Linked DNA regions of Homo sapiens: all the other regions are linked to region 3. The links come from fine-mapping of genetic effects on gene expression. A gene starts in region 3. Each other region holds a variant in brackets. All regions are shown on one strand. Distances are from middle to middle.

Region 1 (5,107 bases), 59 kb before region 3:
ACTAAAGTCTTGACTTCGGAGTGCAGGCTAGTACATGCTTTTTTCCCTTTTAATATGCTTATACTAAAGAGAAATACAGCAAAATTGGTAGTATGAACAAGAAATTTTGAAACTCTAACTACAATTGCAATGTAAAACTGAAATCAGGCTTTGAAATATATGAATTCACATTACTTACAGGTAAGTCTGTAAGAGCTGGAATAGTTGGAAAACAGATTCAGTTTCAGGGTAACCCCTCATACCCATACCATCTTAATTTTCTCTGTGATTTTATGTAAGTTTTGTGGAGATGAAATATCTGAACTATTTTATACAGTGAAAGCTGAATGCATTAGGATTTCTCCTAAACTCCTGTATCAAGAGAGACTAGGCCAACAGTCTTTTGGAGGATTCCTCAGGATACTAACTCCCTTATTCAGGGAAAACCTGCAACAGGATTTCCTGGAGATGATGGCTTCTTTAGCTGTCCCAGTTCTTTTATAGCAGTGGTTTTCAAGATGAGTAAGGGGAGACATTGTGCCCCTAGCCCCAGCCCCAGGGCATTTGGCAATGTCTGGTGACATTTTTGGTTGTAGCCAGGGGAGACGTGCTTCAATGAGCGGGCAGAGGCTGAAGCTGCCGCAGAGCAGCCTACAGCACACAGGACCGCCCCCGCCCCCAGCGGCAAAGAATTCTCTGGCCCAAGTGTCAATGTGCCACTGCTGAGAAACCCTGTGACCGCTACAGCAGGGGGTTCTTAAAACTGGGGGGCTGGTTAAATGCCTATTTCTGTACTGGACTCCCAGGCTTCTGATTCGGTAGGTCTGGAGTGGGACCCAAACACATGCATGTTTACAGGATCCCAAGAGACGCTGATGCTGTTTATCTGAGGACCACGCTTCAAGAATCAATGCTCCCTAGGACAGTTTACTTCTTATACAATGTCCTTCCTCAATTTTATTACGAACAAAACACCTCAGTCCTCAAATAGCTTAAAAAAATCAGTAAAATTTCAATAGATAGCTGAGACATAAAAGAACTGAACCTACATGCACACGGGCAGTATGAAAGATGGTTATTGTTCGGTACATCTTCAGTGGTGAGAAAAACATTCATGAGCTTTATCTTTTCTGTGAGGAGGGTGCTTTAATCCACTGAATCATTGTGTAAAGGTAAACTGACAGGACTCCTCAGTAACATATACTGTTTAATCCTTAACTGTTCGTGTCTAGATGTTTTTAGTAAGTTTCAGTTATTCGCATTAGAGCAATAAAATTCCCAGAGGTGGGGAGGCATAAATCTATTTGTGTGTTTTTTAATATCTAGGAGTTAGCACAGAGTTTTGCTAATGGTAAATGTTTTGATAGACAGGCTCATAACAGAACACATTTTTTTGAAATATTTACAATATAGTATTTAGCAATATTTTCTTTAGCCTGAAACCTTTGGTTCACAAAATCCTACATGAAAATATAAGCAAATAAACCCCAAAGCTGAGCTGCTCTAGCTGATCCTCTCTGCGGGAGGTCCCATCACCCCTGCTTTTAGCCACCCTCCCAAATCAGGGGTTCTACACAGTAGAGTTTGAAATCCGTCGTTTTAACTTAAAGTAAAATTTAAAGGAAAAAAAATATAAACTTAATATGTTAGGTTCTTTAAAAAGAGAGGGCAGAAGCTCAATTGGATAAAACAGTCTGTGCTATCTGCCCTAGTGATGATTCAAGACTGCCAATGTCAAAGATGTGACAAAAAGCCACAGTCAACCTGACCAATGATCATTGTCTCTGATAAGAAATTCTCTGAATTAAAGGGCAGTTCATGCTGTTTCAGAAACTAGTCAAATGAGAATATGAAAAATCCAGATACTTCCTATTGATACTGAAGAACAGATTTTAAAAAGCCTAGCCTTAGGCTGTGTTTATTTATGTGTCTAATTCTCTTATGAAGATAAGCATCTAATAAAATATGGAGCTTAAAGTAAGATACATTTAAAAATCTCTTAGTCTATATAAATCAGGTAATGGGAAAATAATTTTCCTACTTTCATTTCAAAATAGGTCTGAAAACACCTTATTTTCAGAATTTGCATCAGCTGAATATTAAGAGTCTAAATCAAAATTAATTAGAATTATTAAATGCTATAGTAGTTTTCGCTATCATGTTTTTACTTGTTAAAACTATTTGGGAAAAAGATCCATTTTCCCATCAATGTCACCTTCAGTAAGAAGCTAAGGAGGTATTTATAACCTTCACAAACCACTCTATTTGCCAAATAATACACAAAATATATTGAATCAAAGCAATTATTCTGCTAAATACATGAATGACAAGAATGAGGAAAATCAGTCTTACCTTATAGCATAGATACAGCAGTATTAATATCGGTACTGAATATCGCATTATACATATCTATATAAGAAAGACATTATTTAGATTATAAGTATTTTGAACCTTTTCTTTTTTGAGAGACAGGGTCTTGCTATGTTTGCCTAGGCTGGCCTGGAATTCTTGGGCTCAAGTGATTTTCCTGTCTCAGCCTCCTGAGCAGCTAGGATTATAGGAGTGAGCCACTGTGCCCGGCTTTTTTAAACACTTCTGCCTTACAGTTTTGCTTTGTAAATATATGCCTTAAAAAA[T/A]TACCAGAAATATAATTTAATGGAGCACAAGTCTCCAATATGCAGAATAACTGAGTCGATACTAGGATTCTAATCATTTGTAAGATATCTGCAGCTTCTACTATATTGCCACCTAGTGAATTTATGGAGTAGAACAATTCAAAACTGCATTTATAGGCTACTGAAAAATTGTCATACATATATAAATAATTATCTTTATGAAAATACATTATAATAACAACAGTTATAATTCCGGACAAGGGGATTATTGGTAATTTTAATTCCCCTTTTGTGCTTTTTTTTGTATTTCCAAATTCTGTATAATGAACATATCTAACTTATAGTCTGAGAAAAAAGTAATTTTTTAAAATAAAATTATTTTAAAATAATTCCCTATAAAATCTTAATATATCAATTATGTATTTTCAGCTTCAATTTCAGTATCCATTTTATCTCACAGCTACTGAAAAACAAAAAAAGAAGTGGTATGAAAGAAATACTGCAAGTCATAAAAGGAGATGGAAAAAGGGATGACACTGACCCTCTTTGGGTTATAAAGATGGACTGACTTCAGAAGTAACTCCCATATTTCAGGGCTACATAGGCCGAATGATGCGAACACACACATGTGTGACGTCCAGAGGTACTTCATTCTGCAAGAACAGACACAGGCGCAAGTCAGAAGTACTAGTTGTATATAAACCTGGATTCTGAGACACCTATAAAGGCAGCTTTACAGTCTATGACGGCAAAATCTTACTTAAAACTATGCAGATGCCATTTGCCGAAGGGTTCGTTGTTTAACTCCACTGCCTTTTCAAGACTATGCTTTGAGTAAAACATAGAGGCGTGTTTGTAATTAATTGTAAAAACTGATGTTGAGTATTTTATACTGAGAGAAGATAGGATATAAGGATGATTTTATGGGAACCATGATCATTAATGAAGATGATTGTCACTTTCCAAATTATATTGCTAAGTAACATCAAGAGTGATCAAATAAAAAGTAAACAAACAGGTAAGACAAAAATACCTCATTGTACTCAATGCCAAGAATCCAAACAGAATGGTATGTATTAAGTTGTAGGCAGTTTCTGGTTTCAGGTCAACTGTGCCTTTTTCCATTTTACCCACGGATTGTTGATTTGTAGAATCACTGAGTAAAACAGCAACATACAAAATTTAAGCTGGAAACATAATTTTAGTTAGATCTTTGTAAAAGAAGAAGATACAAGAAATGTATGCCTTTATGTATTCAGAAATTGATTATTTCCATAAGATGAAATGAATTCGCATTGATCAATTTTGAATTTATGAGGCTAAAGTGTAACAATATAAATGCATTAATAATGAGAAAAACTGAAATTTCACAGCAGCTTTGAAGTAAAAATTTAAAGTGCTTCAATTCTTTAAATTAAAAGAGAATGCAAAAAAAAAAACTCAAATTTTTTGGAATTGCTGAAATTGAAAGAGATTTTTAAAAGATGTTTTACCAGTTATTATGAGTATTTTTCAAATTTTTACAAATAAGCAAAAGCAAAACACACATCCATTAACTTGGAATTCAGTTCCTTTATGACCCCTCAAAAATCACATTTTTAACCTACCAATACCTCCTGATATCCAAAAGATGACTTTTACCAAATACGGCTACATTAAAATTATTACACCCAATAAAAGTAACAATAATTCCTTAACATCATCTAATACCTAGTTCATGTTCTATTTTCCCTGTTTGCATCAATTGCTTTTTTCAGGTTTCTCTGAATCAGGATCTAAGAACTGCATGTTGCATTTCACTAATATATATCTTTAAATATCTTTTGATCTATAAAAGTATCTCCTTTTTTTAAAAAACAGGCCATTTGTTTGTGGAAGAATAGAGAACATATGTCCTGAAGCTGTTCCCGTCTCCCAGGTGTGGCTCACAGTGGTGGTTATACGTTTCATGCTTCTTGTAAACTTGTAATTAGATCTAGAGGTTTATCAGACACAAGTTCATTTTTTTGGCAAGAACACTTCACGGGGTTATGATGCACAGTAGTCCCCTCTTATCGGTGGATTCACTTTCAGTGGTTTGTTATTGAGGAAACTGCTGTCCGAAAATATTAAATTGAAAATTCCAGAAATAAACCATTCATAGTTTTGAATTACATGCTATTCTGTGTTGCATGATGAAATCTCTCCATCCCTGTCTGTCCCACCTGAGACTCAGATCATCATCCCTTGGTCCTGTGTTTCCACGCTGTATAGTCTACCCACCTACCCGAGACAGACAAGCAGATACATTCAGCTACTAAACTACTAATAAAGTAAGATACATTTAAATGTCCCTGTATTGTTTGTGTTCAAACAGCCCTTATCTTACATAACTAAGGCCCCAAAGTGCAAGAGAAGTGATGCTGGCATGTTGCTATAATTGTTGTATTTTATTATTATTGTTATTCTCTTACCATGATTAATTTATAAATTAAACTTTATCACAGGGATATATGTATAGGAAAAAAACATAG
Region 2 (5,093 bases), 76 kb before region 3:
GGAGTCACACAGGCAGAGTCCGTTAAGAGCACTTCTATTGTACTTAGAGGGTCTTCTGACTGCTAACTCAGAAGCAAAATCAAGTGGGTTTTCTGTCAATAGAAAACAGAGCCATTCTTTGAGGTTATCACCACCCAGGTCTGAGTGGCGGGGAGCTGCTGCCGCGGGTCTCTTGCTTCGGCCTGGTAGAGAGGCTGTAAGCCAGAGCTAGAAGTCAGATGCTCTTCTTTGCTTTCCTTCTGTGTACTCCAATGAGAAGGTCACATTGGAGAATACTGATGAGTGCTAAAAATATTTATTAATAACATGATTCGTTGAGAGATTTGGTCATCAGGAAATAGCTACTGTACATGGTCACAGTGTCTTGGAAAGAGTGTTAAGTATGGATTCTGTCTTGCAAGATTTTTTTGGCACTTTATATTTTTCACTGAAGACTGAGCACTAAAGGTGCTGGCAACAATGACACCTAAACTATGAAAAAAAAAATCACTGTTTGCCATCATTGCGGTGATAAGCATAAAAATTTAAGTACGTGTTTCTTGTATATTAAGACTCCAAATGCCCAAATGCTTAGATGAATACATACAGGAATATTTAAAATAAATTTAAATATAGCCATAACAGAGGATTTTGAAAACAAAATCACAGAGTCTAACATATTGTACCTTACGTGTGCTTGGTTTCAATTAGAGTAAGGCACTCGCTGAAGGATGTACTGACCCATGCTGTCAGCTACAACAGGCATGCATCATTATTGGCTTAATTAAAGTTTTAGTACTGATTAAAACGTTTTATTATTGTATTATCCTAAACGGCAGTGGTCTCCAATCTTATTAAGGGATACAGAAAAGATATAATTCAGGAGTTTCAGTTGCATAATTTAATAACCCAGCTACTGTCAATTTTTTATTTAAACAAGTTTTGATAAAAGCTGAGTCTGCTTGTGTCCAACATGACAGTGTAAAAGACTTTTTGAATGCTGCTTTATAAGTAGCAACTGAATATAAAATCATTTGAAAATGTGATGCAGCCATCTTGATGCCTATGGTAATTTACTTCAATACAACTGCAAGGAGAAATGCTTAAATCATTTCCACCTGGCAAGAACAGGGGAGAAAGTTAATTCCATTAGCCATCTTGATTTAATTAAATGCATACTATGTTCTTACTGGCAACTTTTACATGTCCTCATCATTAGAAATTAATTATATAAGCGATTATCAAAAAAATTTTGAGCAGGTACATATACTCTTCTTTGTTGTTTACAAATAAGCATGACTTAGAGGCACTTGGTTACCTTTTAATAAGGAAAAGAATTACACTACCAGGGCCTTCCCAGTAAGATTGGAGACCACAAGTCAAACTTGGTATGAAAATGCTGTCTGAAAATGCTGTCTGCTAAAAATACTGTATTAGTGAACTAGTTAAGATAGAACATTTAAAAAATATTCAGACTTTGCAAGATTCTAGGCTGTAAAAAATACAAAGGCTAAAAACACAAAAAGTTTACAAAATTTTGCAAACCCAATAAATTGAAATGAGTAAGAAATAAAGCAAAACTATTACTGCAGGAGAGGTTAAAGAGTATCAGTAAGTTTTAAAATAATAACACTAAAATGTAATAAATTCTACTTGGCTACATATATTTCTGCCCCTTTAAGGACTTACGATATGGAACTTGTAACACTTTTCTGTGCCCAGCATTAAAACACATGTGTGCACATGCACACACACAGACACACACAATACATGACACATACTGCTGAAGTACTCCACATTACATTTCAGACAGAGTGTAACAAAATGTTTGATACAAAGCCTTAACATGATTTTTTTTGTTAATGTTGACAGCATGACAACTGGAAAATATTATAACATTTTAAGGTAAAACAGGACACTAAAGTGCTTTTTAAAAAGCTACCAATTGGTCTTCACCAGTGAAATCATATTAAATAAGTCGATCATCATCTCTAGTTGATTCAATCATAGCTGTCTTAAGTCACCTGAAAATTAAACGTATTTCAAATCCTGAGCAGGTGCTCATCTTCCAACATGTTATGTGCCTATCCAGGTATCCATGGAACACACATCATTCTCTCCAACAACATAATTCTAGGTCACTCTTAGAAAGTTGTTAACATTTAGGCTAAAGAACATTAATGAGAAAGATAGACACACAACGAAAAAGACTTCTGCTTGTAGAAGATGCTTTCAAAGATGGCAACACTTGTGTAAACATCTGTAGAACTTACTCATATCACAGCTTGAAGGTTTGGGCTACCTACTTACATAGGAAACGTCATCTATTGAGTTTCATCATGATGCAGTTTCTCCGTATCAAAAATAGACACTGGGCAGAAATCTGCGCTACTTGTTTCTGGACAGCTTGTAAACGTGGAAGGTTTTGTTCTGGAACACTCTGGTGAAGTAGGCCACGTAGGGAGGCAGGTTTCTTTTGATCTCTTCACAGAAGCGAGGGTGGTCTGCAGGTTTCAAATCAGGATCATTCTCTCCTGGGCCATCCATCATCTAAAACCAAAACAAACCCAAATACAATTTGGGGGGAAAATTCTATTTACAAAAGACAGTAGGAGCAGGAATGGGTATTGGGTTTAAGAATGGTATGTGAGTGAAATTAAATTATATTATTTCAATGTCCATGGGCACCTGGAGATCATCAGGGCCATCCTTTTCCCCCTTCAGAAGTGCAGACCAAGGCTGAGAAGGAGAGTGCAG[C/T]GTCACACGATGATCCCATTAACGGGAAAGCCAGAACTAGAACTCAGGTCTGCTTGCTCTCAGGAACATACTATACTGTCTCTCTCATAGAAATGAAATACAGAGAACTACAGTGATCAGAGAAAGCTCTCTAACTCATCAGAAAAAGTCACATTTAGGCCAGGCGTGGTGGCTCATGCCTGAAATCCCAGCACTTTGGGAGGCTGAGGCAGGAGGATCGCTTGGATCAGGAGTCTGAGACTCATCTGGGCAACATAGCCAGACTCCATCTTTACAAAAAATAAACAAAATTAGCTGGGTATGGTGATGTATGCCTGTGGTCCCAGCTACTTGGGAGGCTGAAGTGGGAGGATCACTTGAGCCTGGAAGGTTGAGGCTGCAGTAAGCCAAGATCACGCCACTGCATTCCAGTCTGAGTGACAGAGTGAGACCCTGTCTCTAAAAATAAATAAATAAATAAATAAATAACTGAAAAAGTCACGCTCAAATCAAAATTTAAATGGATGTCTCTGGTCTGTACCACCTCTGAACTCAAGACAGTTATGAACTATGATTCTCCTCGGGCAAAAATCTGAATCTCAAATTCTGTACAGTCAAGATTTTTTTTTTTCAAATTTAGGCTAGGTTTGTCACTTTGTCCAACTTGTTTACAAATATCTATTGGCTTTCATACCATTAATTACAGCACACATCACACCTCTAAAGGGTGAAAATCTGTTTGCTCTACTGAGACCTGGCATAGCTCCAAGAACACTTTCCTCAGAAGGGAGAAGGGAGAAGCGGCTTGCTGCTTTTCTGCTCTGGAGTGCAACTTAGCCTCTGAAAGCCGGCCTGTGGAAACACACCAGTGGACACAGGACACTCAGTAGGAGAGGGCAGGAGGGGTAGGGGGAATCCACCACCTAGACCGGAGGGCAGGAGGGCCCCACCATCCCTGCCATGCAGCAGCTAGCCAATACGAAGCGTTGGAGCAGTGGGTTTAAAGGCTGAGGTTTTGTTTATAGCAGCAAAATCCTTCACAGATACATTTTATGCAGAGCCCCATCATACAAATGAGCTGAAGGCAGAGCTGCTCTGTTTGGTGTGACACTGGGGACCCAGGGCTCCCCTCTCACCTCTCCCTTGCCCAGCCCCGGTGGCAGTCACTAAAGTGCCAAGAGAGGGCTTCTGTAGGAAGCAAGAGAAAAAGCAAATACTTGATTCGTAGCGTAATTCAACTAGACATTAAGGATAAAAAGATTCACATTCTTAGGATTCAAATCAGAGTCCCGCCCCTCCAGGAGACCCCCACACAGGGAGAGGCAGCATGCTCACGTGGCCGTTGGCAATGTCCAGCAGGTCCCGGAGTCGGCAGCCCCGGCGGTGCCTCCGCTCGTAGCAGATGCTGTCTTCCAGGATTACGTAGTCAGTGCCGAAGGACCTTAGGAGGGCATGCACTTCCTCTGGTGCCCTCTTGGCATATATCTGATAAACCTTCAAAAAGACATAAAAATGCAATGTGGCAAATGCTACTTGACTGCCAGGGAGTTAACTATGTGATGTAACCTTCCACAGGGCTGAGTCTAAGACCTAACACCCAAGGTGCTCTCTCCAGCCCAGGCCACGCTGCACTCGCTCATTTGCAGGCCTGGAGTGTGTGCGTGGAAGTTCCCAGAACGCTGTGAGTGCTCGGCCTTGGGAAGAGAGTGAGCCAGGAAGAACACATCTGGATTCAGAATGTATTACTTCAAGTCAGGACTATATTCATCAGTAGGCACCAATTCTAAGACTGCTTTCCCAAGGTAAATGACAGGGCTGAGTAAATAAGACACAGTCTCTACCTTTAAAAAGGGGACCCCCAGACTAAAATGGCCCATTAAGGGTGATGGGACAGTCTGAGGGACACACGTCCCAATAAGGCAGAGCCCCAGCTTCTGAAACTGGTAGGTGGGGAGAAGGATCCCTGTAGGGTCTCTGCTCCTAGGCTGGGGCAGCATTGGCTGCTTTACCTGCTACTCCGCATCTCAGCTAATTGAGAGACCCCACTGCTCCTCTCCCTCTCGTCCATCCTAGGGGTGAGAGCCACTTGCAGCACACCGTGGGCAACGCCACAGGAGGCCCCCTTCACGTTCATACCAGTGCCACACACCCTCAGTGGATGGATGCAAACTGAGCGTCCCAGATTCTGGGGCTGGAATGGAAACAGGCTGTGTGAGGTGTTGAATGTGGGGGTTCATGAAGAGAGGCACTGCCTCCTTTGTTGCACCCTGATTTCGAGTGCTAGATTTCTGATTTGGGCTTGAGGGTCTAACTTGATGTGTCCACATGGATGGGTGAAATGGTAGGGAGGTAGGATGCTGTTACTGTGACAACTGTGT
Region 3 (5,107 bases):
ATGCTGAAATGCCTTTACTTATGCCATTTTCCCTCTATTAGCATGCCCTCCCTTTTTTTTTCTTCCCCCCAAGACAGGGTCTCACTGTCACTCAGGCTGGAGTGCAGCGGCACCATCACGGCTCACTGTAGCCTCTACTTCCACAGGCTCAGGTGATCCACCTCAGCCTCCCGAGTATCTGGACTACAGGCATGTGCTACTACACCTGGCTAATTATTTTTTGTAAAGATGGGGTCTCCCTATCTTGCCCAGGCTGGTACTGAACTCCTGGCCTCATGCGATCCTCCCCGCCTTGGACTCCCAAAGTGCTAGGATTACATGAATGAGCCATTGTGCCCAGCCTGCCCTCGATCTTGCCATCTAAATCGTTGCTGGCCTTCAAAGCTACACTCAAAACACAATTCAAATATTTATTCAACTCAATCATATTTATTCATGAAGCATGTGCTCTACAGCAGGCCCTGCCAGGAGTCAGGAATACAGGTAAGCAACACAAACGAGCCACTGCTTTTCTTCCAGAACATCTTGGGACATTCCAGTTCCGGCTGATCTTCTCCCTCCCTGAGCCATAGCAGTTACCACGCAATGCGTCACGTAACTACACAGTTGTATATTATTTTCTACTTCCATAGGCGGTAGTAGGTCTTCAGTACCTCCCACAGAAGTGGCCACGTGGGAGATACTCCATAGTAAATGTGTTGACAACCGGATTTTGAAGAATTAAAATATTGTTTTGTCTCAGGTACCTGAATTTTAACACCAGTGTTCTATAAAACAATTCACACTGGCAGCTTCAGGAATACGCCTCAGTGGTGATGACTGCGGGGGTGTGCCAATCAGGGCAGCTGCTATCCCAGGGAGCGTCGGTGGGAGTAATGGGTGGGGGGGAGCAGGAGCCTGGTTTGGCAGCAGCAAGTGGGAGGCGGGGGAGTGGTGGCAGTGAGTAAGCGGGTTCCAGTCCTCCAGAACATCTTGCTTCACTCCTCTGAATAATGAACAGCCTCTTACTAATTATTTCTTAAATGTGACTAGTAGCCTGACATGATTGTTTCCACAGTTTATTAATTCCTAAGGGTAACTTGCTCTACAGAACAAACCAACTAACATTATACAATTCATGTATTCATTCATACCAAAAAAAAAAAAAAAAGCAGGAAGCCAGATTTAAGTACTGTGCTTTCAAGCACTGGAAATGGAGAATCTGGAACAGAGAGGGAGAAGAGGAGTGTTTAACAAAGTCCTACAGCCACAGATGGGCTTATCCCCCATGTGACCTCATCCTAGAGTCCTCCCTAAGTGTGAGAGGACTTTTTTAAACAATTCATATATTCTAATATGTTAAGGCAGAAAACCAACACATATTTAAGTACCAATTATGTGTCAGGCACTGCAACAGTCCCATGAACTAAGAAAAAAAGTTCCTCCATCAGATCAAAAGGAATGCCATTGTAAACAACTGAAAAGGGACCAGAAGCGATTCTTTATTAATAAGGACGACTAGCGCTAGCCGGGCGAGGCGGCTCATGTAATCCCAGCGCTTTGGGAGGTTGAGGCAGGAGGATGACTTCAGACCATGAGTTTGAGACCAGCCTGGGGAACAGAGCGAGACCCTATCTATACAATAAAATAGCCAGGCTCGGTGGTGCATGCCTGTGGTCCCAGCTACTCCAGAGGCTGAGGTGGGAGAATCGCTTGAGCCCAAGAGTTCGAGGTTGCAGTGAGCCGTGATAACGCCACTGCACTCCAGCCTGGGCGAGACAGCGAGACCCCTGTCTCTAAAAAATAAAAATAAAAAAGCCTAGCGCTCTAGTGAGCATCCCCTGGACGAGGCAGGCACCGGGTCCGCTTACCTACGCGCCACGCCCCTGCACACCTGGCGTCCCCATCAGGTAGGTCTCCAAGGACAGGGGCAGCCGGGAAGTTCAGGCACGCGCCCCAGCTCTCCCAAGACCGCGAGCGGCCGCCGGGGTCGCAGCCCAGGCCCTGCCTCGCCGCACGGCCGACGAGCAGAAGCCGCTCCGCAAACTTGGTCCTTCCGGAGCCCAGCCCGGCCCGCGTCCCGGCAGACACTCCCGCGCTCCGCCCCTCCCGACGCCCCGACGCCGCGGCCGCGCCCCCCGACTGCGCCACGCGGCGGGGAGGGGCGGCCCCAGGGGCTCGGGGCTGTAGCCGAGGGTTCCGCCGGCGCCCGCCCGCCCTCTCGGTAGACCCTCGCCCGCGCGTCCCGGCGCGCCGCCACAGACCTGCGGCCTCAGCCGTCCTCACGCGCGGCTCCGGGAGGGGAAGGAGGCCGACGGGGCTAGGCGGGAACGGGGCCGCGCCACGGGCCGCAGCGCGCCGCGGGTACAAGGAGGGCAGAACCGCCGCGGAGCTTTGTGGAAATGAGGGGCTGGGGGGCGTCAACAGCCCCGGGGAGGGGGCGCGCCGGAGAGGCCGGGCGGCTGCCCCCGCGCCCATAGGCCCCGGGAGCTGTTCGTCAACACTAGGCCCCGCCTCCTCCCGCGGTTCCCCGCCTCGTCTCGTGCTGCGCTGGCCGGAAGGAAGCGGCACACTTCCGCTTGCCTGGTCCGCATTGAGTCCGGTCTGTTCCGGAGACTCTGAGCGCGGCCGCGGAGCTGCAGTGGCGGGGAGTGGGGTGCGGATCTTGTGTTTGCGCACGCAGTCGCCGGCCACCTCAGGCCGGAGCTAGAGATACGGCTCGGGATAGGAGGGCCCGGCGGCTCTGAGGCAGGTTCGCCTCGAGCCGCACGGCCCGGAGCAGCGGCTCCGCGGTGGTCCCCGGGGCTTGAGAGGGGTGCGGGCCTGGGAGCCCCTGAGGGCCTGATTTACGGAACTCCCCCTCCTTCCTCCTTTCTGCCGTTCCCTGCTCTGTGGCGGATGCGCAGGGATCAGTAGGGACGGCAGCAGTAGGGCCACTCGGGCCTGCCCCGCTTCCCGCATTGCCCGGTTTGGCGCGCCGCCTCCGGGCCTTGGCAAAGCCCCAGCGCCCGATTGTCACTGACCAGTGCTTGGAAGTCCTTTACCGACTGCCCGTCAGCGTCCCGCGGAGAGGATTTTGCGTCTCCAAAGACGCCCCTCTTCCGAAAACAGGCTCCTCTGTGTTCTCAGTCGGGTATATTTTTCTGTCTCCAAACTAGATTGGCAGCCGTTTTTTGAGAGCAGGTACTGACTGTGCTTTATTTCTAGATACTTTTCTTAGTCACACCACGGAAAACACTAGGTGGAACCTTTTTTAAAATTATTTTTTACAGGTGAGGCTCTCAGTCTGTCGCCCAGGCTGGAGTGCAGTGGTGCTATCACGGCTCACTGCAACCTCGGCCTCCTGGGCGCAAGCGATCCTCCCGCCTCAGCCTCCGGAGTAGCTGGGACCACAGGCTCGCACTACTATGCCCAGCTAATTTTTAAATTTTTCGTAGAGATGGGGGTCTTGCTTTGTCGTCCAGGCTGGAGTGCAGTGGTGTGATCGTAGCTCACTGCAACCTTAGTCCCCTGTGCCCAAGTGACCCTGCTTCCTCAGCCTCCTGAGTAGCTGAGATTCATTTTAATTTTTATAGTGATGGGGTCTCGTTGTGTTGACCAGTCTGGTCTAAAACTCCTGAGTTCAAGCAGGCCTCCTGCCTCAGCTTCTCAAAATGTTGGGATTACAGGCTTTAGCCACTGCAGCGGGCCCATCAAACGTTGTATTTGTCAGTACATAATTTACATGTTAATTGATTTTTGTTAAAGGGATGGCCATCTGGGACCTCCACCCGTGAAAAGGCGGCTCATTGGTCTGACTCCAACACTAAATTACGCCATCCAGGAAGCCTTTCCTAGTCACCTCTGTTGGAGATCGTCCTCCTTTGTGTGTCGGTTGTTAGTAAAGAGCACACGTTCTGTGGAAAGATGTTGAGGTATCTGCTGGATGGCTTTGATAGAAACAAATGTCAGCTGTTTTTTCAGATGGCATTTGTCTTGTTTCAGCCTGGTTGTTGGTAGCTTTTCTGTCGCCTGGCTTGAGGGCAAGGACTGTATGTTTATTTTTCACGTTAAGATGCCTTTATGTGCATGTGTCTGTTTCATGAATACATAGGTGAATTGAGTTCCCCTTAAATAGGATTTCCCTCTTATTTTATAGGTTTTTTTTTTTCTCTCAAGTTGTTTCACTCTGGGGGAAATGTGACCATTGTGAAATATCATCGCTTAGTTAAAAAGAAAGTAGAATTCAGCAGTAGCTGCTTTTTTTAATACTATGAAAAGACATTCCTAAGCAAGATGAAGCTTTGAGACTTTTCCTAAGTAGGACCTACTGCTGAGAGTAAGTCTTGGGGAGAATAAGCCAATTAAGAATGAGTCTTTGGTTCTGATAAAGTAACCATGGAGGTGATGGATAATGAGTGTAGGTCCTTGCTCACACTTCTGGCCATATGAGCCCGGAGCCAGGGAGGTACTATAAAAGGAATGGGCTCCTGTAATGGACTGTGACTGCAGTGGTGGTATATAGCAAGACTTCCGGTTTGCAGTAGGTTTAGAAGCCTAAATAGTCTCCCTGGTTGTCTCTGCCAGGGCCACAAATAGTTGTGCTGTGCATCTCAAAAGTGTGGTCTGGGGATCTGCAGCGTCACTGTCACCATCACTTGGGAGGTTGTTAAGAAATGCATGTTATCAGGCCCTACCCCACGCCTACTCAATTTAGAATCTGTAGGGCTAGGGGACCACTAATCTTTAAGAAGTTGATATGGTTAGGCTTTATGTCCACACCCAAATCTCATCTTGAATTGTAATTCCCATAATCCCCACCTTTCAAGGGAGAGACCAGGTGGAGGTAATTGAATTATGGAGGCAGCTTCCCCCATGCTGTTCTCATGATAGTGAGTTCTCACAAGATGTGATGGTTTTATAAGGGGATCTTGCCTCTTCGCTCAGCACTTCTTCCTGCCTCCTTGTGAGGAAAGTGCCTTGCTTCCCCCTTTGCCTTCTGCCATGTTTGTAAGTTTTCTGAGGCTTCCCCAGCCATGCTGAACTGTGAGTCAATTAAACTTCTTTCCTTTATAAATTACCCAGTCTTGGGCATTCTTTGTAGCAGTATCCTTTATAGCAGTATGTATAGCTGTATGGACTAGTACAG
Region 4 (5,107 bases), 98 kb before region 3:
GGTTTATTTCACTTAGCATAATGTCCTTAAGGTTCATCCATGTTGCAGTATACTGCGGAATTTCCTTCCTTGTTGAGGCTGAGTAATATTCCATTGTATCAATATATCACATTTTGCTTTTCCATTCATTTGTTGATGGATACTATTGCTTCCACATTGTAGCTGCTATAAACAATGCTGCTGTAAACATGGGTGTATAAATATCTCTTTGCAATCTTGCTTTCTATTTGGGGGGGTATTACCCAGAAGTACCCATTCATTGCTGAAATTCATTGCTTAATTTTTTGAGGAACTGTCATACTGCTGTCTGTACTGGCTGCACCATTTTACATTCCCACCAACATTGCAAAAGAGTTCCAGTTTCTCCACAACCTCACCAACACTTGTTATTTTCTGTGTGTGTGTGTGGTTTTTTGTTTTGTTTTGTTTTGAAAGTAGCCATCCTAATGGGTGTGAGGTGGTATCTCACTGTAGTTTTGATTTGCATTTCCCTAAAGATTAGTGATGTTGAGTATCTTTTTACATGCTTGTAGGTCATTTGTAGATCTTCTTTGGAGAAATGTCTATTCAAGTCCTTTGCTCATTTTTGAATTTTTTTTCTTCATTTTAGTTCTCTATATATTCTGGATATTAATCCCTTATCAGATGTATGATTTGAAAATATTTCCTTCCATTCTGTGGGGTTGCTTTTTTACTACTGATAGTGTCTTTCAATGTACAAAATGTTAAATTTTCATGCAGTCCAATTTGTTTTTTTCTTTTGTTGCCTGTACTGTTAGTGTCATCACTTATTTTATTTATTTATTTATTTATTTAAGATGGAGTCTTGCTCTGTTGTCCAGGCTGGAGTGCAATGGTGTGATCTTGGCTCACTGCAACCTCTGCCTCCCAGGTTCAAATGATTCTCCTGCCTCAGCCTCCTGAGTAGCTGGGACTACACGCATGCACTACCATGCCCAGCTAATTTTGAATTTTTAGTAGACATGGGATTTCATCATGTTGGTCAGGCTGGTCTTAAACTCCTACCTCAGGTCATACACCCCCCTTGGCCTCCCAAAGTGCTGGGATTACAGGCGTGAGCCACTGTGCCCGGCACCTACTTATTTTAAACCTGCCCATGCCTTTTTATTCAAAGTGTGCTTCTTTAAAGTTTTGCTTTGTATCCAATGTGATGATATCTGCCTTTTAATCGTAGTTTTGATCATTGCATTTAATATAATTATTGATAAGTTTAATTCTAGATGTTCTATGTTGCTCTTTCTTTTCCATTTATCCCATATGTTGTTTCTTTTTTCTTTCTTTTTAATTGTGCAGCTGTACTTTGTTTAATATATATTTCATGCACAAATGCCGAGAGAAAAAGAGAAAGGCAGGGAGAGGGACAGAGAGAGGCTGTGAGTTTATAATAAAGATCCATCTTTAATACAAAGTACCTAGAAATGATGCTCTATCACTTCAGGTAATTATGAGACACTTACAACAAGTGGAGACATGGTGGAGAAATAGTATGTAAACGGAATATTTTCTGACAAAGTGGAAAGAATGCAACTAAAAATTGGAGCAGAATGGAGAAGGAGAAAAGTAGACTATGACCGATGATTGTTGAGTAGATAACAGATGAGCTTTCTTGTTTATGCTGAATGAAGAACATCAAAGGTATAAATAAGGTAATCAGTGAAACAAAATATGAGGCTTCCAAAATATAAAAAATAATTGTAGAATGTGAGATACTTATACATCATATAGAGAAACAGGGTAAATATAATACACGCTGTAATTAGAACAATGTGAGAGCATTGAGATCAATCATATCAATAATTGTTAATGGGCATAACATCTGTACAACAGTGTATTTATGGACCCACATGGAATGCTAATATATAATAATTTAACTATACTATATTATGTTATAGTATAGTTATATACTATATAACTATACTATACTATATAGTATAGTTATATACTATATATGTTATACTATACTATATAGTATAGTTATATACTATATATGTTATAGTATAGTATGTAAGATATATTATAATAATTTAACTATACTATATTATGTTACATATATAATATATATATTATGGTATAACATACTATACTATATACTATACTATATACTATACTATACTATATAGTATAGTTATATACTATATATGTTATAGTCTATACTATATATGTTATAGTATAGTCTATACTGTATATGTTATAGTATAGTGTATACTATATATGTTATAGTATGTAAGATATAATAATTTAACTCTACTATATTATGTTACATATATAATATATATATTATGGTATAACATACTATACTATATACTATACTATACTATATATTATAGTTATATACTATAGTATGTTATTGCATAGTATGTAAGATATAATAATTTAATTATACTATATTGTTACATATATAATATATATATTATGGTATAACATATTATGATTATAATTATAGTATAATTACATGATTATATATAACTGTATGTTACATATTAAATAAATCATGTTATATATTATTTATATAATCATGTTACATATGATTTATATGTTATATATGATTATATATTCATATGTCATATATGATATAATCATATATGTTACATATGATTATATATAACTATATAAGTTATATAATATATAATTATATTATCAAAAAGTAAAAAGTGCAAAAGAATATATTCATTTTGTGTAAAGAAAAATGGAAAATAATATAATAAAAAAATAATAAAACATGCATATCAGCGGATTTTTGCAAAAAGAAACAAAGAATGGGTAAATCAGAAATGAATAAAAAGGATTATATATGGCTGGTCATGGTGGCTCATGCCTGTAATCCCAGCACTTTGGGAGGCTGAGACGGGTGGATCACTTGAGGCCAGGAGTTCAAGATCAGCCTGGCTAACATAGTGAAACCCAGTCTCTACTAAAAATACAAAAATTAGCCATT[T/C]GTGATGGCAGGCGCCTGTAGTCCCAGCTTATTCAGGAGGCTCGGGGCAGGAGAATCGCTTGGACCCAGGGGACGGAGCTTGCAGTGAGCCAAGATTGCACCACTGCACTGCAGCCTGGGAGACAGAGCGAAAAAAAAAAAAGAAGGGATTCTGTACAAGAGGAGCAGGATGAGATAGCAGGAATGAGGAAGGAGCAACATTCTTTGAGTCTTTTTTATTGTTTTCACTCTTACATGATGTTAATGTCCTAAATAGTAAAAATAAATAAATAAAATTAGATCAGTATACATGGGGAAAAACTCTAAATGCCAACTGAAACCAATAAACTCAACTCTATTTCACAAGAGTAACAACCACGATTAAAAGGAAGGACAAATAATTAGTTCAAATAACAATTGAAGCTGGGCTTGGTGGCTCACGCCTATAATCCCAGCACTTTGGGAGGCTGAGATGGGTGGATCACTTGAGGCCAGGAGTTCGAGACCAGCCTGGCTAACATAGTGAAACCCAGTCTCTACTAAAAATAGAAAAATTAGCCAGGCGTGGTGGTGCATGCCTGTAATCCCAGCTACTTGGGAGACTGAAGCAGGAGAATCGCTTGAACCCGGGAGGAAGAGGTTGCAGTGAGCTGAGATTGCACCAATGCACTCCAGACTGGGTGACAACAGCAAAACTCCATCTCAAAAACAAAAAAAGTATCATTGAATAAGGGAACATGAATATTATGGGCCTCCAGGTGTGATACCTGAGGACACAGTATCATTTATGTAGCAGTCCAGTCGGGAATGTAGCAGATTCTATACAATAACTGGTCTGTATTCTTCAAATATACAAATTTCAGGAAAGACAAAGAAAGGTTGAGGAACTGTTCCAGATTAAGGGAGACTTAAAAGACTTGTATTTTTAGTAGAGAGAGATTTCACCATGTTGGCCAGGCTGGTCTCGAACTGCTGACCTCAACTGGTCCGCCCGCCTTGGCCTCCCAAAGTGCTGGAATTACAGGGGTGAGTGGTGATGCGTGCCTGCTATCCCAGTTACTCGGGAGGCTGAGGCAGGAGAATTGCTTGAACTCAGGAAGAGGTTGCAGTTAGCCAAGATCGTGCCACTGCACTCCAGCCTGGGCGACAGAAGACTCTGTCTCAAAAAAAAAAAAAAAAAAAAAGATTTGACAACTAAATGCAATTCCAAAATGGATTCTCTACTGGAAAAATAATTGCTATAATAAACATTTTGTGGGCAATTAACTACATTAGAATATATATTATAAATTAGATATATATCATTAGATTACATCATTAGATCTATAGATTATTACATGTTGATGTTAAAGTTCCTAAATTTGGTAAAATAATTGTGGTTATATAAAGGAATACCCTTATTCTTAGGAAATAATCACTGAAAAATTAAGGGCATAGTGGTATGATATATGCAGCATATACCTAAATAATTCAGAAGAAATAATAATAAATGTTTTCCTGTAACTATCAATCTGCTGAGAGAATGATAAAGCCAATATGGTCATATGTTAAAAATCAGTGAATCTGGGTTCTTTTTATAATTCTTATAACTTTTCTATAAATTCGACACCATTTCAACATAAAATCAGAAAAAAATATTAAAGAGTATGTAAGCTTACAGAGGGGTGAACTGAATATAAAACAGGTCAAATAGAAAACTAACAGTGAGACAGTGTATGTAGACTCCAATGTATCTGTCAGTGATTAAATTAAATTCTAAACAGACTAAAAACTTTTTTGTGTTGTTAGAGACAGGGTCTCCATCTGTCACTCAGGATAGAGTGCAGTGGTGGGATCATAGCTCATTGTAGTCTCGAACTCCTGGGTTCAAGTGATCCTCCCACCCCAGCCTCCCTAGTAGCTGGGACCATGGGCATGTGCCACCATGCCCGGCTAATTTTTAATTTTTATTTTTTTGTAGAGATGAGTCTCACTACATTGCTTGGTGGGGGGTCTCAAACTCCTGGCCTCAAGTGATCCTTTGGCCTCGGCCTCCCAAAGTGCTGGGATTATAGGCATGAGCCACTGTGCCTGGCCTAAAGACTTTTATTAAAAAGAAAAAATGGGCCAGGCACAGTGGCTCACGTCTGTAATCCCAGCACTTTGGGAGGCCGATGTGGGTGGATCGCCTGA
Region 5 (5,107 bases), 86 kb before region 3:
TGTATTCCCAAGGCCTTTTAGGTCTCAACAAATATTAATTGAATAAATCTAATTACTAGGATATCAGATTAAGCCTTACCTAAAGGCCTAAAAAAGTTAAATGTGCTAAAACATTCCCTTTATGTAAGACAACTTGGGTTAGGTTTTCCGAAACTTGTGTAAATCAAACATAAAATTCTAAGGCCCCCCAACCACCTGAATGGACCCCTCTTTCGGCCAAAGGCATTCTGAAGTTAACCTGAAAAGCTAGTTCAGGCCATGATGGGAAGGGGGAACTAGACATGCTTCATTACACCCTCCGTACTTTGGGAATTATGGATAGAACAGACTCTTTAAGTCTGATAAGAAACATTTACAATCTACTTTCTCTGAAGCCTGCTACCTAGAGGCTTCATCTGCATGATAAAACCTTGGACTCCACAGTCCCTTACTGTAACTCAGACACTCCTTTCTATTGACAGTAACTCTTTCTGTCAATCAGAAAAATCTCTAAATCTACCTATGACCTGGGAGCCCCCCACTTTGAGTTGTCCCACCTTTCTGGACTCAACCAGTGTACATCTTACATGTACTGACTGATGTCTCGTGTCTCCATAAAGTGTATAAAGCTAAGCTGCACCCCGACCACCTTGGGTACATGTCATCAGGACCTTCTGAGGCTGTGTGTCATGGTGTGTCCTTAACATTGGCAAAATAAACTTTCTAAATGAAGACTTATCTCAGATACTTTTGGTTTACACTTGCAATTTGAAATTTCCTAAATGATACACCCTTGGCTTTCCCTTAGAGGTCATCATATCCATTTCAATTCAGTGCAATAATAGGATATTTTGAATTCATGTTTATATCATAAACCTATCCTCACGCCCTTTTCTCACCTCTTCCTCTGGCATACAGTAGGTACTCAGGAAGTTCTCACTGAAGAAACCATTGAGTTACATGATGGCCTAGGAAAGGTTGTGTTCATAATTTTCATAATCTACCAGGCTCTTACAGATATTCAAAGATTCTGAAACATTTTCTATTAAACAAAAAGGCTGCCCACAAAGACAGCACAGTAACAGTACAGCAGGTCCCCTAACAATGGTCTTGTCTATTTGTGCTAAACTATTAATTATCAGTAACCCCCAAAGCACCTTCCTACAGAGTGAATCTAGTGTGATATCAGGTGTTGTAAAAAATAAAAAATAATAATTAACAGCAGTGAGTGCCAAATGAGCAAAACTTATGTAAATAATCTTAATAGAAATGAGAGATAATTGTTCACAGGTGTCATTTCCTGAGAGAAAACATATACCTTTTCTTGCAAGAGAAAATGCTAATAGTTTCATTAAATTTATGAGCCTTAATTAGCTCACTGCAGTTCTAATTACCGGGCTAGTCCTGAAATCATGTTCCTTCACTCCTTTCCCTTTCTTAAGCAGATTCACGCACAATCAGCCCCTTCTACTTCTTTATGAATATGTGCACCTTGGCAGGGCTTTGGCATTTATCTTCAACAATGATAATGTCTCCTCTAAGAACATCCAATCAATCAGTCTCTCTTGGTCTTTGTCCATGGCTCTATTTTTCTGTCTCTCTTCCTCACCCGCACAGAGACACAAACACAAATCCATTTCCTTGTGTTGCAAATACACACCTCAGGAATTACTAAGAAACTAATTTATCTATAAAACTGTTCTCTTAATCTCCTCCTCAGTCCTTGAAGTTTTCTTTTTTTTTTTCTTTTTGCTTTTAAAGATATTTTCTACAGCAAGAATAGTTAACATAAAATTACTAAGGGCTCTTTAGTATCTGTCAGACTCACCTGTAACTTTGCTCTTCATGCTTTTCTCTTTCACATTCTAATTTTGAAGACGACTGTGATAATAATCCTGCAGCTTTCATCTAATGTACTTACCATGTGCTAGATATTGGGCCTAGTGCTTGAAATGTTATCTCATTTAATCCACCCCACAAACCAATAGGTATATTATGATTACACCTCCATTTACAAAAGAAGACATGAAGCTAAGAATATGAGTAGCATGCCCAAAGTCATACAGGCCCATTCTATTTCCTCTCCTTGTGGGACTCCAGTACCACTTATAGAATGGCATAAAATATACCAAAATATACTCCATGCTCTCCTTTTTCTTTTTAAATAAAAACAGGGCTGGGTGCGGTGGCTCACGCCTGTAATCCCAGCACTTTGGGAGGCCAAGGCGGGCAGATCATGAAGTCAAGAGATCGAGACCATCCTGGCCAATATGGTGAAACCCTGTCTCTACTAAAAAT[G/A]CAAAAATTAGCTGGGCATGGTGGGCAGCTGTAGTCTCAGCTACTCGGGAGGCTGAGGCAGGAGAATCACTTGAACCCAGGAGGCGGAGGTTGCAGTGAGCCAAGATCTTGCCACTGCACTCCAGCCTGGCAACAGAGCGAGACTCCATCTCAAAACAACATAACACGACACAAAACAAAACAAAAAAAACGGGTCTCACTATGTTGCCCAGGCTGGTCTCAAACTCCTGAGGCCCAACCGATCCTGCCTTGGCCTCTCAAAGTGCTGGGATTATAGGTGTGAGTCACCACACACAGCCTTTCCTTTGTTTTTCAACTTCTCCCCAGCCCACAATATTTTAGTCTGGATATTTTCTTCTAACCTATTGTCCAGTTGATCAACTCTCTTCAGCTGTGTCTAACCCAACAGTGAACACTTAATTCATTGCATTTTTCAGTTCTAGCATTTCCATTTTGCTTTTATAAAGTTTTCAGTTATTCACCTAAATTCTCCTTCTTGTCATTTAAAGTCTTAAATATGATAAACATAGTTATTTTAAAGTCTATGCTTCAGGCTGCAATATTTGATTTGCCTGTGGCACTGTTTCTACTTCAATTCTGTTTCAGTCATGTTTTTTGTTTTTGTTTTTTTGAGACAGGCTCTCACTCTTGTCACCAGGCTGGAGTATAGTGACATGATCATGGCTCACTGCAGCCTTGATATCCCAGGCTCAGGTGATTCTCACACCTCAGCCTCCTGAGTAGCTGGGATTACAGGCGCATGCCACCACACGTAAGTTTTTGTATTTTTTTTTTTTTTGAGACGGAGTCTCGCTCTGTCGCCCAGGCTGGAGTGCAGTGGCGGGATCTCGGCTCACTGCAAGCTCCGCCTCCCGGGTTCACGCCATTCTCCTGCCTCAGCCTCCCAAGTAGCTGGGACTACAGGCGCCCGCCACTACGCCCGGCTAATTTTTTGTATTTTTAGTAGAGACGGGGTTTCACTGTTTTAGCCGGGATGGTCTCGATCTCCTGACCTCGTGATCCGCCCGCCTTGGCCTCCCAAAGTGCTGGGATTACAGGCGTGAGCCACCGCGCCCGGCCAGTTTTTGTATTTTTTGTAGACACAGAGTTTCGCCTTGTTGTCCAGGCTGCTGTCAAATTCCTGGGCTCAAGTGATCCTCCCTTCTCGACCTCCCAAAGTGCTGGGATGACAGGTGTGAGCCACCACACTTGGTCTCAGTTTTAAAAAATTATTCCTGATTATTTTATTGAGTGCTACATTGTGTATATAAAAAGTGTAAAGACAATTTGAAGCCATGAATAAGGCTATCATCCTTCATAGCAGATTTACATTTGTTTCTGGCAGGCAATTGGGATAACAGCCTCTACTCCCAGGATAAGGTATAGTCTCTCCAGAGTCTCAGCTGAATGCCTGGGAGATTGACCGTGGTCTCTCAGCCCCAGCTGGACCCAAATTCCAGTGTCTCCTCGGGATTGTGTAACCTCTGAAATTTCTGTTCAGCTCTGCCACTGACCAGATGTTCTCTGCTAAGCCTCTGCAGGCTAGGAACTGACCAAGGACCCAATGGGAAATTCTTAGGTTTTCTTTATTCCAACTCCCTCCTCTCTGGTGCTCTGCCCCTCCAACCCCTGCCAAACCCCAGCCACCTCAGCAGCTATCAACTCCAATCTGCTTCCTCCAGAAAGCCTGACATACTCTGCTTGGGCTCCATTTTCCTGTGCCACAGTTTGGAAAATCCTCTAAGGGAGAAAGCCTGGGTAACCCTGGGATTCACCTTGTGTTTCTCCTTTCTGTCAAAGTTTACAAAAGCCCTATGTTAACCATTGCCACTCAGTTATCGCCAGGCCCTATTCTTTTATTTTTACATTTTTTTTAAGAGACAAGGTCTTGCTCTGTTGCCCAGGCTGGAGTGCAGTGATGCAATCATAGCTCACTGCTGCCTCAAACGCCTAGGCTCAAGGGATCCTCCCACCTCAGCCTCCTGAGTAACTGGGACTACAGGTGTGTGCCATCACTCATGGCTAATTTGAAAAAAATATATTTTGTAGAGATGGGGTCTTGTTATGTTGCCCAGGCTAATCTTGAACTCCTGACCTCAAGTGATCATTCTGCCTTGGCCTCCCAAAGCACTGGGATTACAGGCGTGAGATACCATGCCTGGCCCAGACCCTGTTCTTTTAAACTGTCTGTGGTAGGAAGAATTCTAAGATGGCCCCCAAGATTCCCACTGCCTGAACAACATGCCCTGCAGAGCCCTTCCCCTTAAGTGTGGATGAGCCTATGAATATAAATGCCACTCCTATTTAGGTAATTAGGCGAGGCTATATAGCAAAAGCGAAAGGATTCTGCAGATGTAATTCAGGTCACAAACAAGCTGATTTTGAGCTAACAAAAATGGAGATTATATTGGGTGGGTCTGACTTAATCCAGGTGAAAAACTTTTTGTTTTTTTTTTTTTTGAGACGGAGTCTCGCTCTGTTGCCCAGGTTGGAGTGCAGTGGTGCGATCTCAGCTCACTACAAGCTCCACCTCCCGGGTTCATGCCATTGTCCTGCCTCAGCTTCCTGAGTAGCTGGGACTACAGGCACCCACCACCATGCCTGGCTAATTTTTTGTATTTTTAGTAGAGATGGGGTTTCGCCATGTTAGCCAGGATGGTCTCAATCTCCTGACCTTGTGATCCATCCGCCTCGGCCTCCCAAAGTGCTGGATTACAGGCGTGAGCCATCACGCCCGGCCGAAAAACTCTTAAAACAGTAACTGGAGAAATGCTTTCTGATGGCCTTGAAGAGGCTAACGGCCATGCTGTGAATCGCCTAGAGAGGGGTG

The links. PIP is the estimated chance that this variant, and not a neighbour inherited with it, causes the effect.
Region 1: its variant is the best candidate, but not a certain one, in a credible set for the expression of DPY19L3 in whole blood (INTERVAL, PIP 0.58).
Region 2: its variant is the best candidate, but not a certain one, in a credible set for the expression of DPY19L3 in sun-exposed skin (GTEx, PIP 0.52).
Region 4: its variant is the best candidate, but not a certain one, in a credible set for the expression of DPY19L3 in whole blood (TOPMed, PIP 0.68).
Region 5: its variant is the best candidate, but not a certain one, in a credible set for the expression of DPY19L3 in whole blood (INTERVAL, PIP 0.74).

The regions. Positions count from the first base shown.
Region 1 is chr19:32,462,009-32,467,115 of GRCh38, reverse strand. It overlaps DPY19L3 (dpy-19 like C-mannosyltransferase 3), which reads right to left. Exons shown (of 19, transcript NM_001172774.2): 13 at 3,628-3,750; 14 at 3,136-3,247; 15 at 2,332-2,388. Among named protein-coding and RNA genes, the nearest start is that of DPY19L3, 59 kb to the right of the region's middle. The variant T/A (reference allele first, on the strand shown) is at 2,616.
Region 2 is chr19:32,479,515-32,484,607 of GRCh38, reverse strand. DPY19L3 (dpy-19 like C-mannosyltransferase 3) reads right to left here. Exons shown (of 19, transcript NM_001172774.2): 18 at 4,051-4,209; 19 at 1-2,529. The coding sequence ends at 2,368. Among named protein-coding and RNA genes, the nearest start is that of DPY19L3, 76 kb to the right of the region's middle. The variant C/T (reference allele first, on the strand shown) is at 2,737.
Region 3 is chr19:32,403,046-32,408,152 of GRCh38, reverse strand. It overlaps DPY19L3 (dpy-19 like C-mannosyltransferase 3), which reads right to left and starts at 2,383. Exons shown (of 19, transcript NM_001172774.2): 1 at 2,244-2,383. DPY19L3-DT (DPY19L3 divergent transcript) reads left to right here and starts at 2,614. Exons shown (of 3, transcript NR_046201.1): 1 at 2,614-3,162. RefSeq lists silencers at 2,002-2,751, 2,782-2,831.
Region 4 is chr19:32,500,817-32,505,923 of GRCh38, reverse strand. No RefSeq gene overlaps it. Among named protein-coding and RNA genes, the nearest start is that of PDCD5, 78 kb to the left of the region's middle. The variant T/C (reference allele first, on the strand shown) is at 2,957.
Region 5 is chr19:32,488,852-32,493,958 of GRCh38, reverse strand. No RefSeq gene overlaps it. Among named protein-coding and RNA genes, the nearest start is that of DPY19L3, 86 kb to the right of the region's middle. The variant G/A (reference allele first, on the strand shown) is at 2,278.